2 separate regions of the Homo sapiens genome follow, and region 2 is linked to region 1. Evidence: fine-mapped expression QTL. A gene starts in region 1. The other region holds a variant in brackets. All regions are shown on one strand. Distances are between the middles of the regions. Region 1 holds the start of BBLN (bublin coiled coil protein). Region 2 has its middle 10 kb from the start of PTGES2-DT.

Evidence for each region. PIP is the estimated chance that this variant, and not a neighbour inherited with it, causes the effect.
Region 2: its variant is the best candidate, but not a certain one, in a credible set for the expression of BBLN in testis (GTEx, PIP 0.73).

Annotation. Positions count from the first base shown.
Region 1 is chr9:128,156,229-128,164,228 of GRCh38, reverse strand. BBLN (bublin coiled coil protein) reads right to left here and starts at 3,964. Exons shown (of 2, transcript NM_024112.4): 1 at 3,743-3,964; 2 at 305-786. The coding sequence starts at 3,821. The coding sequence ends at 614. RefSeq lists silencers at 3,715-3,804, 4,015-4,224, 6,244-6,439, 7,713-7,913 and enhancers at 3,156-4,109, 4,110-5,063.
Region 2 is chr9:128,134,574-128,142,764 of GRCh38, reverse strand. No RefSeq gene overlaps it. Among named protein-coding and RNA genes, the nearest start is that of PTGES2-DT, 10 kb to the right of the region's middle. RefSeq lists a cis regulatory region at 466-639 and an enhancer at 4,256-4,755. The variant A/T (reference allele first, on the strand shown) is at 4,638.

The sequences.
Region 1 (8,000 bases):
AAGGCCCTAGTACCCAGAGAGGCTGAGAGCATCACACAAGGTCACACAGCATGTCCAACAGTCTCAACTGGGCTTCTGGGCTAGGAAGCAGCTGCTGGCCAGGAATGTATCAGGTAGGGAGGAAGCCCTGCCCTCACCTGCACCTTCTGTGTCCAGAAGTACAGGTGACCAAGAACCCCAGCCCTACCACCTGGCCTCTGAGCCGCCAGTATAGGATCAACACCTGAACACCTAGACAGTCCTGTTCGCCTCCAGCAGCTGCTGGGGTTCTCGTCCTGGGATACAGAGGAGAGAGGCACAGCGGTGTGGGAGACCCATTTAATGTGGACACTCAAGGCCTGGGCAGAGTGGGGAGCGCCCAGGAGTTGGGTGGGCAGGCAAGTGGGTGGGTTGCAGGCCCACTCTTGGCCCCAGGAGGGCATGCCAGGTGGTGGGGGCTGGCCCAGGTAGGCCAAGGGGAGGCCCAGGCAGGAAGGGTGGCCCAGGCAGGCAGACCCACCAGGGGTCCCTGAAGGCCAGCCCTTGAGAAGGTGTCTAAGCCAGGGGGTGAGTGCCCAGGCCAGAGCCTAGCCCAGGGAGGCAGGGTTGGGTCCCGGTTGGGGGCTCTTGGAGCCTAGGGGCTGGCATCACTGGGGGCCTCCCCGAGCTGCTGCTGGAACTCCAGGCGTGTCTGCCGGTTGGACTCCAGCAGCTCCTGGAGGCGGGCGTGGAGGTGGTCATTCTTCTCCTCCAGGTGGTCCAGACAGGAGTTGATCTGGTCCAGCATGGAGTTGATGGCAGCGTATTCTGGGAGGAAGGCGAAAGACAGAGCCCAGATCCTGTGTCTCCTTGGGGCTAATGGACACCCTCCCTCCACTGTTTCCCAGCCTGCTTCCCAAAGGGCTTTGTGCAAGTCCCTACTGCTTCCTGAGCCTCAGTGTCACCGTCTGGAAAATGGGTGGAATACCAAAAGAGGAGTGGCTTTGAATGAATGACACTTTAGTACTGCATCCTTTTTTCTAGGGTTAGGGTGGTCATAGGGTGGCGAGCCAGTGTCCTACATGGGAAGTCCTGCCAGATGCCAAGTCTCTGCACTTCCTGCAGCAGCTGCTTAGTGGCCAGAGCCCACATTCCTGAGTTGGGCATTCAAGGCCTCTGTCCCCAGATGGGCCCTGTTCGCCAGCCCTTCTGTGGCTCCCTCAGGATAAAACACCCAGCGGAGTCTCCAGCCCCTGCCTCCTAGCTAGCCCTGCCTCCCTGCCTCTTCCTTTCCTCTCTCACACCTGCCTTTACCTACCTCAGGCCCTTTGAACATGCTGCTGTCTCTGCCTGGAAGGTGCTGGGTCCTCCCATCTTCCTTCCCTTCTCTCCTCCTGGATGAGTCCCACTCATCCTTCAAGTCTCAGTATGGATGTCACCACCGGGAGCCCACCCAATGCCCCAGACTGGATCAGGCCTCTATGCTGAGCCCCTAGCCCTCCTCAGCCCTCCACGACCTTCTCTCCAGGATTGACTGCTGTGCTTATCTGAGTGCTGTTATGTTTCCCCATGAAAGATGAACGGTCCTGTGTTCGCTGCTGGCTCCCTGGTGCCCTCACAGTTTTGCAATAAGCATTTGTTGAATGACTGAGTGAGTGAATGAATGAAGCCTCTGACTTTCCAGCCTCTCCGCCATTGCTCAACTATCCCTGCAACCTAGAATGCCTCAACCACAACAGCCCTTCAAGGACCAGCTCAAAATGCCTCCTCCAAGAAGCCTTCCCTGGTCTCCACTAGAAACCATCACTCCCTCCCCTCCACGGCCACTCCAGAGCTGCCCTGCTCAGCAACACAGTGTCCCTGAGGACTCAAGGTCTGGGCCTGTGCCCACTGCGGGACCCAGTTCTGAGCCAGCCCATGACTCACATACACTCAGCTGCCAGCTTGAGACCAAGGGGGAAGCAGCCGGTGGAGGAGCTGGAGGAGCGTATCTGGGTTATGGGTGCATATGTGCCTGTGTTCTAGGAAAGGGCACCCGTTGCCTAGAGCCAGCCACCCTCACAGACGACAGCGTCCTGGGAAATCGGCTGCATCTTAAAGTCCAACCCCCTCATGGTATATAGCTAGGGAAACCGAGGCCTCAGAAGGAAGGAACCTGCCCAGGGTCCTCCAGGTTGGTAACAGCCGAAACTCAGGATTGGACTTGGGGGTCAGGGTCACTTGGGTTTGAATTTCAGCTCTGCTTTACCCCAGCAAGTTGTACCTTTCTGGAAAAAAGGGAAAATAAAAAAGGTTGTGAGGATTCAAACACATCAAGAGTTCAGACAGTGGCCGGTGTGGTGGCTCACGCCTGTAATCCCAGTACTTTGGGAAGCCAAGGCGGGTGGATCACCTGAGGTCAGGAGTTCGAGACCAGCCTAGCCGACGTGGTGAAACATTGTCTCTACTAAAGATGTATAAAAATTAGCCAGGCGTGGTGGCAGGCGTCTGTAGTCCCAGCTACTCGGGAGGCTGAGGCATGAGAATCGCTTGAACCCAGAAGGCGGAGGTTGCAGTGAGCCAAGATCACGCCACTGTACTCCAGCCTGGGCAACAGAGCAAGACTCCGACTCAAAAAAAAAAAAAAAGCTCAGACAGGATCTGGCCACAGCAAGTACTTAGTGGATGGTCATTATTATCAATATTTCGAACTCTGTGTCCTGGGATACAGGCTAGGAGGAGGAATTGGGGAGGCAGGTGCCCCACACCCCTCCAGGCCAGGCTTTATCTGTGTCAAGGGTACTTCCCAGTTCCAAGCCTTTGCTTCTGCCTGGGACACCACCCTCCTCCCCACTGTTCTAAGTCCTGTCTGCCAACATCCACTTAATGTGACCTCCTGGGAAGCTCTTCCTGATGCTCCCAACAGCATTGCCCAATGCAGAGCTACCTGAAACTATTGTGATGGATGTACAACCCTGGGAATACACAAAAGCCTACTGAACTGTACAGTATGGGTAAGTTGTATAGCTCAATAAAGCTGTTACGCCAAACAAAACAAAGAGCATGCACCATACTTACACCACATTTACTAAATCCTCAGTGTATGTTAACATGCCAATCTTTACTATACCAAAGATAATAATGACGATAACCATTTACTGAACTCTTGCATGCTAGAACCTGCTAAGGATTTTCCTTTTTTTTGCATTTAATTCTGACACATCCCAGTGCAGCAGACACTAATCGTTATTCCTATTTTATAGAGGGGGAAACTGAGGCTGAAGAAGGTGAGAAGGGAGCCGATGGTTCTCTTCACACCCCACCCCTGCACTCGTAAGCACGCAAAAGGCTGCTCTGTAAGCTGCTGACATTTGGCAAGGCTGTGAGGCTACACCAGCAAAGCCGGGTGGCTGGGGATGCTGAATCGGCAGAGCGACGCCCCCGCGTCCCCAACTCCACGTCCCGGCCCGGCCCCTCCGCTAAGCTCAACCCTGCCTCCCTCAGGTGCCTCGGTCTCCCCCAGGACTGAAGGAAGTGGTGGAGCAAGGCCCACAAGGGCGAGTGTCCCCGAAGCTGCCTTAGTTTCCCCATCTGTAAAACGGGACTGGTGACCTGCAGCTCTCACGGGGCTGGGAACCGGCTCGCGGGTGCTCGCCCTGCATCCGAGACAGCACCTACAACTCCGGACCCGCTCGGGGCGGAATGGGTGGGCTCTTTGTTCCCTTCCGAGACCCCATCTCGATTCCCCTTCCCGGGAGGGCAGCCCTGAAAATGCAAGGTTGCTCCAGCAGCCCCCTCGGGTCACCTGCTTCCCCGAAGCCGTCCTCCTCGCCTTCCGCTCCCGCCTCCACCGGCATCCCCAGGTCTCCGTTGGGGCCCGACATTGCGGGCTCGGGCGCCCGAAGGGCCGCGCGACGATGGAACGCGGCGACCGTCGCGCCGAAAGCCGGCGCCGGATGGAAGGTGGAGGCGGCGGATAGAACACGGGCCGGAAGGGTAGAACGCGGCAGCAGATCTCCGCCCAGAGGCCGGTGCCCCGCCCCTGAAGCCGGAATCCCGCAGCTCCCGCTCCGCCCCGCCCCGCCCCCAGCCGGAACTCCGCCCCCGCCGCTGTTCTGGCCCCGCCCTACCTCCAGACTCCACCCCCACCACCGGACTCCCGCCTCCACCTCCCTCACAGTCGAACTCCGCCCATTCCGCCCCCGGCCTCGCCCCTCTCCCGGGCGCTGGGCGGGGCCACCACGGGGCTGCCCCTGGAAAAGCCCAGGAGTAGGGAGGTCCGGGAGGAGCGGCGGGAGACCGTCCAAGCCCATCTGCTGCTTCGGCCCCTCCGCGTTGGCGAAATCGAAAACGGGGTTTCCTTGTTATTTTTTGAGATAGGGCCTGGCCCTGTCTTCCAGGCTGGAATGCAGTGGGGTGATCTCTGCCTCCCAGCCTGAAGCGATCCTCCCACCTGAGCCTCCAGAGTAGCTGGGACTACAGACGGCTGCACCACGCTGGCTATTGTATTTTTTGGAGACGGGGGGGGGGGGGGGGGAGGGGTTTCGCCATGTTACCCAGGCTGCTCTCGAACTCCTGAGCTCGAGCCATCCACCCGCCTCAGCCTACCAAAATGCTGGGATTACAGGCACGAGCTACTGGGCCCAGCCTTGGAAACGGGGTTTCCACACCTCTTGTGGCTTCCGGATATACCTCTTGTGGCTTCCGGATATTCTTCTTCACAGCCTCGCTGAGAGTCACGAAGGGTCTCCTTCCTCTTTGCCTCTCTGCCTGCACCCCAGTGGAGAGGACCCAACACCCCTACCCCTGGATCTGGGCCTTCCTGGTCTTCAGCGCTTCTCTTAGGGCTCATTGGTTACAACCTGTGGGTGGGAATCAGGCTGGACTCCAGCTCTGGACAAGAGAAACAGGAACATTAGCTAGGCGGGGTGGCTCCCACCTGTAATCCCAGCGCTACGGGAGGCCGAGGTGGGAGGATTGCTTGAGCCTAGGAGTTGGAGACCAGCCTGGGAAACATAGTGAGACACCCTACTCCCACCCCCGCCCACTCAGCCCCCCCCACCCCCGTCTCTACAGAAAGCACAAAAAAAATTAGCCAGACCTGGTGGCATGCACCTTAGTTGCAGCTGTTTGGGAGGCTAAGGCAGGAGGATCACTTGGGCCCAGGAGTTCGAGGCTATAGTGAGCTATGACTGCACCACTGCACTACAGCCTGGGCAACAGAGTGAGACCCTGTCTTTAAAAAAAAAAAAATTAATTAATTAATTAAAAATAAAATGTTTAATTAGCCAGGTGTGGTGGTACACGCCTGTAGTCCCAGCTACTCAGGAGGCTGAGGCAGGAGAATCACTTGAACTGGGAGGCAGAAGTTGCAGTGAGCAGAGATCGTGCCCTTGCACTCCAGCCTAAGCAACAGAGCAAGACCCTGTCTCAAAAAAAAGAAAAAAAAAGGCCAGGCCTGGTGGCTCACGCCTGTAATCCCAGCACTTTGGGAGGCCGAGGCGGGCAGATCACGAGGTCAGGAGTTTGAGACCAGCCTGACCAACATGGTGAAAACCCGTCTCTACTAAAAATACAAAAATAAGCCGGGCGTGGTGGCGTGTGCCTGTAATCCCAGCTGCTCAGGAGGCTGAGGTGGGAGAATCACTTGAACCCACGAGGCAGAGGTTGCAGTGAGCTGAGACTGCACCACTGCACTCCAGCCTGGACAACAGAGCGAAAATCCGTCTCAAAAAATAAATAAATAAAAAGTTTGGCCTGGAGCAGACCTACCTTTGTTTGTTTGTTTGTTTTGAGACAGAGTCTTGCTCTGTTGCCCAGGCTGGAGTGCAGTGGCATGATCTCAGCTCACTGCAACCTCTCCTTCCCGGGTTCAAGCAATTCTTGTGCCTCGGCCTCCTGAGTAGCTGGGATTACATGTGCCTGCCACCACACCCAGCTAATTTTTTTTATTTTTAGTAGAGACGAGGTTTCACCATGTTGCCCTGGCTGGTCTCAAACTCCTGACTTCAGGTGATCCACCTGCCTTGGCTTCCCAAAATGCTGGGATTACAGGTGTGAGCCACCATGCCCGGCCTGGACCTACCTCTTTTTTTTTTTTTTTTTGAGACGGAGTCTTGCCCTGTCGCCAGGCTGGAGTGCAATGGCGCAATCTTGGCTCACTGCAACCTCCACATCCTGGGTTCAAGTGATTCTCCTGCCTCAGCCTCCTGAGTAGCTGGGACTACAGGCACACGCCACCACGCCCAGCTAATTTTTGTATTTTTAGTAGAGACGGGGTTTCACAATGTTTGTCAGAATGGTCTCGATCTCTTGACCTCGTGATCAGCCCACCTCGGCCTCCCAAAGTGCTGGGATTATAGGCATAAGCCACCGCGCCTGGTCCCTGGAGCTACCTTTTTAAGTTGAACTTTGAGAAGCCAAAGAGAAAAAAAGATTAAATAAAAATTTAATTTTTTTTTTTTTTTGAGACAGAGTCTCACTCTGTCACCCAGGCTGGAGTGCAGTGGTGCGACCTTGGCCCACTGCAACCTCTGCCTCCCGGGTTCAAGCAATTCTCCTGCCTCAGCCTCCCGAGTAGCTGGGATTACAGGTGTATGCCACCATGCCCGGCTAATTTTTGTATTTTTAGTTTCACCATATTGGCCAGGCTCGTCTCGAACTCCTGACCTCAGGTGATCCACCCGCCTTGGCCCCCCAGAGTGCTGGGATTACAAGTGTAAACCACCATTCCTGGCTAGATTTAATTTTTTAAAAAATAAAGAGAAGTAGGAATAGTTCATTTTAGGGAGAGCCCCTTAACTGGGACAGGGGCAGGACAGGGGTGAGGCTTCCCTTAGTTCAAGCTCACCTCAAACCCACCCAGGACTGTGTGTCACATTCTCCAATAAAGGAAAGGTTTGCTGCCCCCGCCTGTGAGTGCTGCAGTGGAGGGTAGAGGGCCGTGGGCAGAGTGCTTCATGGACTGCTCATCAAGAAAGGCTTCATGACAATCGGCCCAGCTGCTGTCATCCCACATTCTACTTCCAGCTAGGAGAAGGCGGCTTGCCCACAGTCACCCAGCCGGCAAGTGTCACCCCTGGGTTGGACCCAGAGCTATGATCCTGCCCAGGGGTCCAGCTGAGAATCAGGCCCACGTTCTAGGCAGAGGGGCTCACCTACTGGGACTCCAGTAGCTGTAGTGCATGGAGGCATCATGGCTGCAGCAGCCTGGACCTGGTCTCACACTGGCTGTCCCTGTGGGCAGGCCATCCTCAATGCCAGGTCAGGCCCAAGCATGTATCCCAGACAATGACAATGGGGTGGAATCCTCTCTTGTCCCAGAAGCCACCCTCACTGTTCTACCTGAGGAAGGCAGGGGCATGGTGGAATCTGAAGCCTGCTGTGAGGGTCTCCAGCGACTTGCACATGGTCAGCCCTGCCTTCTCCTCCCTGAACTAGATTGAGCGAGAGCAAGAAGGACATTGAACCAGCACCCAAAGAATTTTGGGGAACGGCCTCTCATCCAGGTCAGGCTCACCTCCTTTTTAAAATTTAATTAATTAATTAATTAATTTTTTTTTAGAGACAGAGTCTTACTGTGTGGCCCAGGCTGTAGTGCAGTGGCACAATCATAGTTCACTGCAGCCTCAAACTCCCCACCTCAGCCTCTGGATTAGCTGAGACTACAGGTGCACCACCACCACACCCAGCTAATATTTTTATTTTTGTAGAGAGAGGGTTTCACCATCTTGCCCAGGCTGGTCTCAAACTCCTGGGCTCAAGTGATCCTCCCACCTCAGCCTCCAGATTAGCTGAGATTACAGGCATACCACCACCACGCCTGGCTAATATTTTCAATTTTGTAGAGACAGAGTTTCACCATCTTGCCCAGGCTGGTCTCAAACTCCTGGACTCAAGTGATCTTCCCACCTCAGCCTCCCCACGTGCTCAGATTACAGATGTGAGCCATGGTGCCCAGCCTAGCCTGCCCTCCTTGGCTGAGAGTGAGGCCCTCAGCAGAGAAAGAGATTTGCTGATGCTCCACTGCCTTTGAAGGAGGAAGGAGCCACAGGCTAAGGGGT
Region 2 (8,191 bases), 22 kb after region 1:
GCTGCAGCTGGGCTGCTCAGAGAGCCCCCAGCCCAGGGCTGAAGAGCTTCAGGGCTCAGCTGTGTCCCAGGCAGGTGCTGGGGCTGGGGGGTGGGAGCCTGGCCCTTCTCCCTCCCACTGTCTCCTTCTCTTCTTTTTTTTTTTTTTTTTTTTTTGAGACTGAGTCTAGCTGTGTTGCCCAGGCTGGAGTGCAATGGCGTGACCTCAGCTCACTGCAACGTCCGCCCAGATTCAAGCAATTCTCGTGCCTCAGCCTTCCTGAGTAGGTGGGATTACAGGTGCATTCCACCACGCCCGGCTAATTTTTGTGTTTTTGGAAGAGCTGGGCATTGTACCATGTTGGCCAGGCTGGTCTCCAACTCCTGACCTCAAGTGATCCTCCTTCCTCCACCTCCCAAAGTGCTGGGATTATAGGCATGAGCCACCGTGCACAGCCTGTCTCCTCCTCTTCCTGCCTCCCCACACCCTGCCTCATCCCCTTCCTGTGTAGCTCAGGGTACATACAGGCACCGAAGTGCACATCCAATGTGTCCCCGCCTACTAAATGTGCTGTGAGCATTACAAGCCACCCAGAGGGCCTTGCCTCCTAAGCAAAGGCCTCAAAGGTCCTTCCTTCCTGACCTGAGTCTCTCTCCTTCTAACTAATTATCCTCACTAGGAGCAGGCACTAGGAGAGAGCCGCTTCTCTGCCTCCTGCCCAAAGAGGGCCATTTCAGAGAACCACAGTAGAGGAGGAGCTGACTGCCAGCCTTGGAGCTTGTGGACTGGGGTCCAACTATTGCCAAGAAAAGTCTAAAGGTGAGGGATGGGCTGGATCTGCTCTTGCTGGTCAGTGGAGAGGAGGCTGCCCAAGGTCTACCACTCCCCAAGGGCAGGCAGGGGTGTCTGGTCTTCCTGTGGCCCAAGCGAACCTTGGGGAAGATCCATTCAAAAGCAATCCTGGCTGAACAGGAGTCTGGAAACTTTGAAGACCTCCTTCTACCAGACAACAGGATCCAGTAAGAAACAGACTCTGAGGCCGGGCATGGTGGCTCATGCTTGTAATCCCAACACTTTGGGAGGCTGAGGCAGGCGGATCACCTGAGGTCAGAAGTTCCAAGACCAGCATGGCCAACATGGTGAAACCCCATCTCTACTAAAAATACAAAAATTGGCTGGGTGTCATGGTGCACACCTGTAATCCTAGCTACTCAGGAGGCTGAGGCAAGAGAATCACTTGAACTCGGGAGGCGGAGGTTGCCGTGAGCCAAGATCGTGCCACTGCACTCCAGCCTGGGTGACACAGCAAGACCCTGTCTCAAAAAATCATAAAATAAAATATGTTTAAAAAGAAGGAAAGAAAGAAAACAATCAGGAGAAGAAATCAAGAAGAGAGAAAGATCTTCCTATTTTATGGGACTATCGAAGCCAAAAGTTGACTCTTGGAAAAGACTAATCGAATAGAAATTTGGAGAAATTTCTCATGACAAAAAGATATAAGACACAAATAAACAACCATAGAAATAAAAAAGGAGGCCGGACGCCATGGCTGACTCCTGTAATCCCAGCACTTTGGGAGGCCGAGGTGGGTGGATCACAGGGTCAGGAGATCGAGACCATCCTGGCTAACACGGTGAAACCCCGTCTCTACTAAAAATACAAAAAATCAGCTGGGCGTGGTCGCGGGCGCCTGTAGTCCCAGCTACTGGGGAGGCTGAGGCAGAAGAATGGCGTGAACCCGGGAGGCGGAACTTGCAGTAAGCTGAGATCGCGACACTGCACTCCAGCCTGGGCGACAGGGCCAGACTCCATCTCAAAAAAAAAAAAAAAAAAAAAAAAAGAAATAAAAAGGGAGCAGAACTATAGAGTTCTAGAGCTATTAAAAAGGTAACGAAAGAATGCAATAAATAAGGAAATGGGAAATTTCCCAGAAAACTATAACTTACAAAAGAGATTCAAGAAGAAAAAAAACATCTGACTTCTGGCAGCCCCAGCCCTGGGGCTACCCGATCTGACAAAGCCTTTTCCATTGTATGCGTCAGAGAGAGAAAAGATGGCAGCTGGACTTTTAACCCAAACTGTGGGGCCCTGGCTGAGGCCGGTGGCCTAAGTCTCTAAACAACTAGACAGGGTTTCTAAAGGATGGCCCCCCTGTTTGAGGGCCTTGGCAGAACTGCCCTGCTAGTACAAGAAGTAAATAAGCTGACTCTTGGGCAAAACCTGAACATAAAGGCCCCCCATGCTGTGGTGACTGAGAGCCAGCCCCTCTTCCCCCGCTGGCTCTTAGGATCCGCGGTGGACTCACAGCCTGTTTACCATATTGTGAGTAAGATCATCTCCCCCTCTGGAGATTATGAACTGTTTCACAGACGGGTGTACACCCTCGGTGTACAGAGGGTGTACACCCGTCTGTATTGGGAGTAATATCATCCTCTTCCTCCCTGAATATTAAGAACAGTATCACAGGGGTGTTTCTACTCCCTGCGATATCGCGTGTCATATCCTCCTCTCCCACGTTGCAATTAGAAACAATATGAGTGGGGGCGTGTCCACCTTCTGTCATATTGACAGTCATATCATCTTCTTCCCTCCAGCATCGTGGGAGCAATATCCCTGGGGGGTGTCCACTTTCTGCCATCTGTGTAGTCATATCACCCCCTCCGCCTTGGAATATTATTAAGGACCATCTCACACGGGGGTGTATACTTCCTGCGATATTGGGAGTAATACCAACCTCTCGGCCTCTGAATATTAGGAAGAATATCACAGGGTGGGTGTACACATCGTGCTCTATTATGGGGAGTCATATCTGTCTATTATGGGGAATAAGAGCATCCTCTCCCTTTCAGGATATCAAGGACAATTTCCCATGCTGGGTGAACAGCCTGCGATGCTGGAATTATTACCACCCTCTCCGCCTCTTCCCCCCCTGGCCCTTAGGACCCCCATCGCAGGGTGGGGAGGCACCCACCGCGACGCAGGGACTGAGAGCCAGCCCCTCTTACCGCCTGGCTCTTAGGACTCCCATCGCAGGGGGGGGAGGCAACCCCCGCGAGTTGGGGACTGGGAGCCAGCCCCTCTTCCCCCGCTGGCTCTATGGAATCCCATAGCCGGGGGGTGAGGCACCCCCCGCGAGGCGGGGACTGACAGCCAGCCCCTCTTCCCCCCTGGCTCTTACGATCCCCCATCGCGGTTGGTGGGGAGGCAACCCCCGTGAGGCGGGGACTGAGAGCCAGCCCCTCTTCCCCCCTTGGCTCTTAGCACCCCCATCGCAGTGGGGGGAGGCACCAGCCGCGAGGCGTGGACTGAGAGCCAGCCCCTCTACCCCACCTGGCTCTTAGTACTCCCATCGCAGGGTGGGGAGGCACCCCCCGCTAGGCGGGAACTGACAGCCAGCCCCTCTTACCCCCCTGGCTCTAAGGACCCCCATCGCAGGGGGGAAGGCACCCACGGCGAGGCGGGGACTGTGAGCCAGCCCCTCTTCCCCCTCTAGCTCTTAGGACCCCCGTAGCAGTGGGGGGAGGCACCCCCCGCGAGGCGGGGACTCAGAGCCAGCCCTTCTTTCCCCCCGGGCTCTTAGGACCCCCATTGCAGTAGGGGGAGGCACCTCACGCGAGGCGGGGACTGAGAGGCTGCCCCTCTTCCCCCCCTGGCTCTTGAGACCCCCATCGGAGGGCGGGGGAGGCACTCCCCGGGAGTCGGCGACTGAGAGCCAGCCCCTCTTCCCCTCCTGGCTCTTAGGACGCCATCGCAGCGGGGAGGCACCCCCAGCATGGCGGGGACTGAGAGCAAGCCCCTCTTCCCCTCCTGGCTCTTGGGACCACCGTCGTGGGGGGGGAGGAACCCCCCGCGAGGCGGGGACTGAGAGCCAGCCCCTCTTACCCCCCCTGGCTCTTAGGACCCCCATCGCAGTGGGGGGAGGCACCCCCCACGAGGCGGGGACTGAGAGGCAGCCCCTCTTCCCCTCCTGGCTCTTAAGACCCCCATCGAAGGGGGTGATGCACCCCCCGCGAGGCGGGGACTGACAGCCAGCCCCTCTTCCCCCCCTGGCTCTTAGGACCCCCATCGCAGTGGGGGGATTCACCCCCCGCGAGGCGGAGACTGAGAGCCAGCCCCTCTTCCCCCGCTGGCACTTGGGACCCCGGTCGCAGGGGGGGAGGCACCCCCGCGAGGCGGTGCCTGAGAGCCAGCCCCTCTTCCCCCACTGGCTCTTAAGACCCCCATCGCAGGGGGGGCAGTCACCTCCCGCTAGGCGGGGACTGAGAGCCAGCCCCTCTTCTCCCCCTGGCTCTTGGGACCCCCATCACAGGCGGGGGAGTCACCCCCCGAGAGGCGGGGACTGAGAGCAAGCCCCTCTTCCCCCGCTGTCTCTTGGGACCCCCATCGCAGTGGGGGGAGGCATATTATCAAGGAGGGACCATGGCAGCCCCTGGAAGATTCTTTCCAATGCCCCATGCCTGGTGGTCTCGCTCTCCTGAGGGGTGGGAATGGAGGTTTTTCTGCTGCTCCACTGGCTGTTATCCCTCTGCCCTCTGGGCTGTGCTTGTAAGATCTGGAAGGCTTCCCTGGCATCAGAGTTCCCTAGGGACAGGATGCTGACAGGTGCACTGACCTTGGGCGGGGCCATGTTGCACCAGGAGGCTCTGAGCTGTCCAGAG[A/T]GTCCACAGCAGCTGTGGCTGAAGTTGGAGGTGGACTGGCAGAAAGTGACTTTTGGCACCTGAAGGGTCAGCCTCAGCGGTTTGGGGAAGGTTTCTCAACATCTTATACTCTCCATTTCAGCATCTATCACACAGGGGCTCCCAGGGAAGGGTGGCAGGGCCAGCAGTGGTAGCCTCTGGCCCCACCTGGACCTACAGAGTCAGAAATCTGCATTGAAGCCAACAGCCCAGGGCATTGTGATGCACACTAAAGCTCGGGAACCACTTACCTAGAACTGCTTCTCTTATTGTCATCCCTTTCTCTACAGTTAATCCTTGGGTGCATATTTATTGATGTCCACCATGAGAGCGGCTCTGTGCTGGGCCGCAGGGAGACAGAGGCAGGAGACAAAGTCCCTGTCCTCACAGCCCCACAGTGTTTGGGAGAGCAGGGAACACATGGGCTGTCCCTGTGTGGAAAGGGCTGTGAATGGGGAGCAGTGGTACCGGTGGTGCAGAGAAACAGGAGAGGCCCATTTCTGAGCCTCTACCACACACCAGCATCCTGAGAGGGGTGTGTAGCCAGGCGCTCCTTCAACTTCCTACCAGCTCTGCATAAGGGGCCCTGTGGTCCCGTCCCACAGCTCACCATTTTGATGCAGGGACCATGCAGCAGTCTCTGGATGAGGGAAGGTCTGAGCAGAGCTTTGGAGCGTGATGAGAAGTGACCCAGAAGATCCAGGGCACGGTAGAGGGAAGGGCTGTAAGAGGTAGGGCTGGGACCACTGGTGCTTTGTTGAGTCACTGCCCAGTCACGAGAAGCAGCCACCTCGTCATGTTGTGTGAAGACGAAATGAACTCTGATTGTGGTCAGCCACTGTCAGTTAGGCATGATTTAGTGGAAAAGTGAGCTCAGCCTGGTGGATTACAATACATACGGAACATTTATGAGGATCGATGTGTCCAAGACCACACCTCAGAGCCGTAAGAACCCAAACATGTCTGGTTGGACAGCTGCCTGGGTAATGGGCAGGGAGCTGGAAAGAAGGCATACCTGGGAGGTGGGCCCTCGGCTTAGCGTCGCACATGCTGAGCTGGTTAGGTTAAAGTCCTGTCCACAGAGAAGCAGCGAGCAGTGGTCTGCGTCTGGGATGCAGAAGACAGGTCTGGGAAGAACACCCAGGGGTGGGAGTTGCTGGTATGTGGATGGTGAGGTTGTCCAGGAGAAGAGGGTTTAGATACAAGCCCCCATGCACACCAGCACTTCATGGAAGGGCAGAGGAGAGCACCCACAAAAACAGCTCAGTGAGAGGAGCTGGAGAATACCTCATCAGAACACAGGCAAAAGAGCTCTTCCAGAAGCCTGTAGTCAACAGTACCAAATGCTGCCTGGGCAGGATGAGTGAGGAGCTTAAAAAGGGCCCTTGGTCTACATGAAGGGATATCCTAGTGGGAGTAGTCATTATTTACTTTTTACTTTTTTTTTTTTTTTGCTGTGGGCATAGCCAGAGATGAGGCCTTTATGGTGTGCAAGTGGCTGCGGCCTGTTGGCATGCTACAATATCATGACATCTGTGAGGGGACAGCCTTGAATAATTAAACACGTATAGCAGAGCTATGAAGACTATGAGCAAGGAGATAAAGGCCTGGGCTCAAGCTGAAATCCTCTACTTACCAGCTAGGTCACCTGGGCAAATTGCTTAAGCATTTTATGCCTCAGCTTTCTCATCTGTAAAATGGGATGATAATAGGACTGATTGCACAGGTTACTGAAAGATTAACTGAGCTAATACGCATCTAGTGTGCAGAGCAGTGTCTGCATGCAGTAAGTGGGCAAAGATGTTGGCGATCACCCTTTTATCTCGTAGAATTTCGCTGAGTTTGGGAGATGACATTTCTCAGTAAGACTCTATTGTTCCACAGGCTCCTTGTTAAGAATCACCAGCGGCACTTGCTAGAGACGTGGATTTCTGGGTTCTAGCCCAGATGTTCTGCCTGGATTCACAGGGAGATGATCCTGGGACTCTGGCTCCAGCAAGTCCCCAGGGGTTCTCATGCTTGGAGAAGGAGAGCAATTCTGCTGGAACAGAATGGGGCACATGTTATAAAAAAGACCTGTGCACAAGGGCCCTAGAGGCCAGATGGAGGTTGGGAGGCCTCATCAGAGGAAAGGCAGTATTGATGTGATTTAGTGAAAGGGAAAGGCTGTGCAGGAGTGATGTCAGCAGGACAGTGGCCTAGGGTGCTGTAGACCCTTGCTCCTCTGTGGAAGCACCAGGCGAGGGGCAATGCATGGCTCCAGGTCGCCTAGTGGGAACTCCAGGAACTGGTTAAGGATCTGCAGCAATCACGCCAACTCCCAATGAGGACAAAACCACACTCAAAGCAGCAGGAAATGTTGTGGCATTTGGCTCACCTCTGCCCCACCTCCTTCCCAGCACGGTCAGGAGGAGGCCACCCTACTCCTGGTACCTCCCTGGGGACACAAGGGAAAGACCGAAACATGTTTACAGGGTTCTGGCTTGTCTGCGGGCTGCCTGTGGAACTGGTTTCTGTCCCACGCATCTTGGAGTGTTGATGCGAAGGGCAGCCTGCTTGGGATATCAGGATGGAGACCCTGGGGGCAGTACTGACTGCTGCCATATGTCAGAGCTGCAGGGGGTACCAGGACAAGGATCAGGGGAAGAAATAAAGCAGAAAGTCGAAGGCTTTCAACAGATGCAAAAATGAGGGAGAAATTCAAACATTCCCAGATATACAGCATATAAAAATGTATGCCCACCATTGAGCACCTAAATATATAAAGTGAATGTTAGCAACCCTGAAGGGAAAAATTGACAGGAGTACAACAGCAGTAGGGAACTTCAGTACCCCACTCTCAATAATGGACTGACCGTCCAGACAGAAAATCAAGAGGAAACACTGGGCTTGAACTATACTTTCCACTAAATGGACCTAACAGTCATATACAGAACATAGCATCCAACAGCAGCAGATGGGGCATTCTTCTCAAGGGCTCACAGGGAATGTTTTCCAGGACATATCATATGTTAGGCCATAAAACTAGTCTTAACAAATTCAAGAAGATTGATATCACATCAAGGATCTTTTCCAGCCACAATGTTATGAAACTAGAAATCAATCAAAGGAGGAAACTGAAAAATTCACAAAAGTGGAAATGAAGCAAGAAGCTCCTGAATAATCAGTGGGTCAAAGAAGAAATCAAAAGGGAATTCAAAAAATATCTGGAAACAAATAAAAATGGAAATATCACACACCAAAGTTTATGGGATGCAGTGAAACCATTTCTAAGAGGAAAGTTTATATTGATAAATGTCTACATTAAGAATAAAGAAAGGTCAGAAATAAACAACTTGACTTTACCTCCAAAGGAACTAGAAAAAGAACAAACTAGGTCCAAGGTTAGCGGAAGAAAGACAAAAACAAAGATCAGAGCAGAAATAAATGGAATAAAGACTAGAAAATAATACAAAAGATTAAAGAAACTGAGAGTTGGGTTTTTGAAAAGATAAACAAAATTGAAACACCTTTAGCTAGACTAACTATGATAGAAG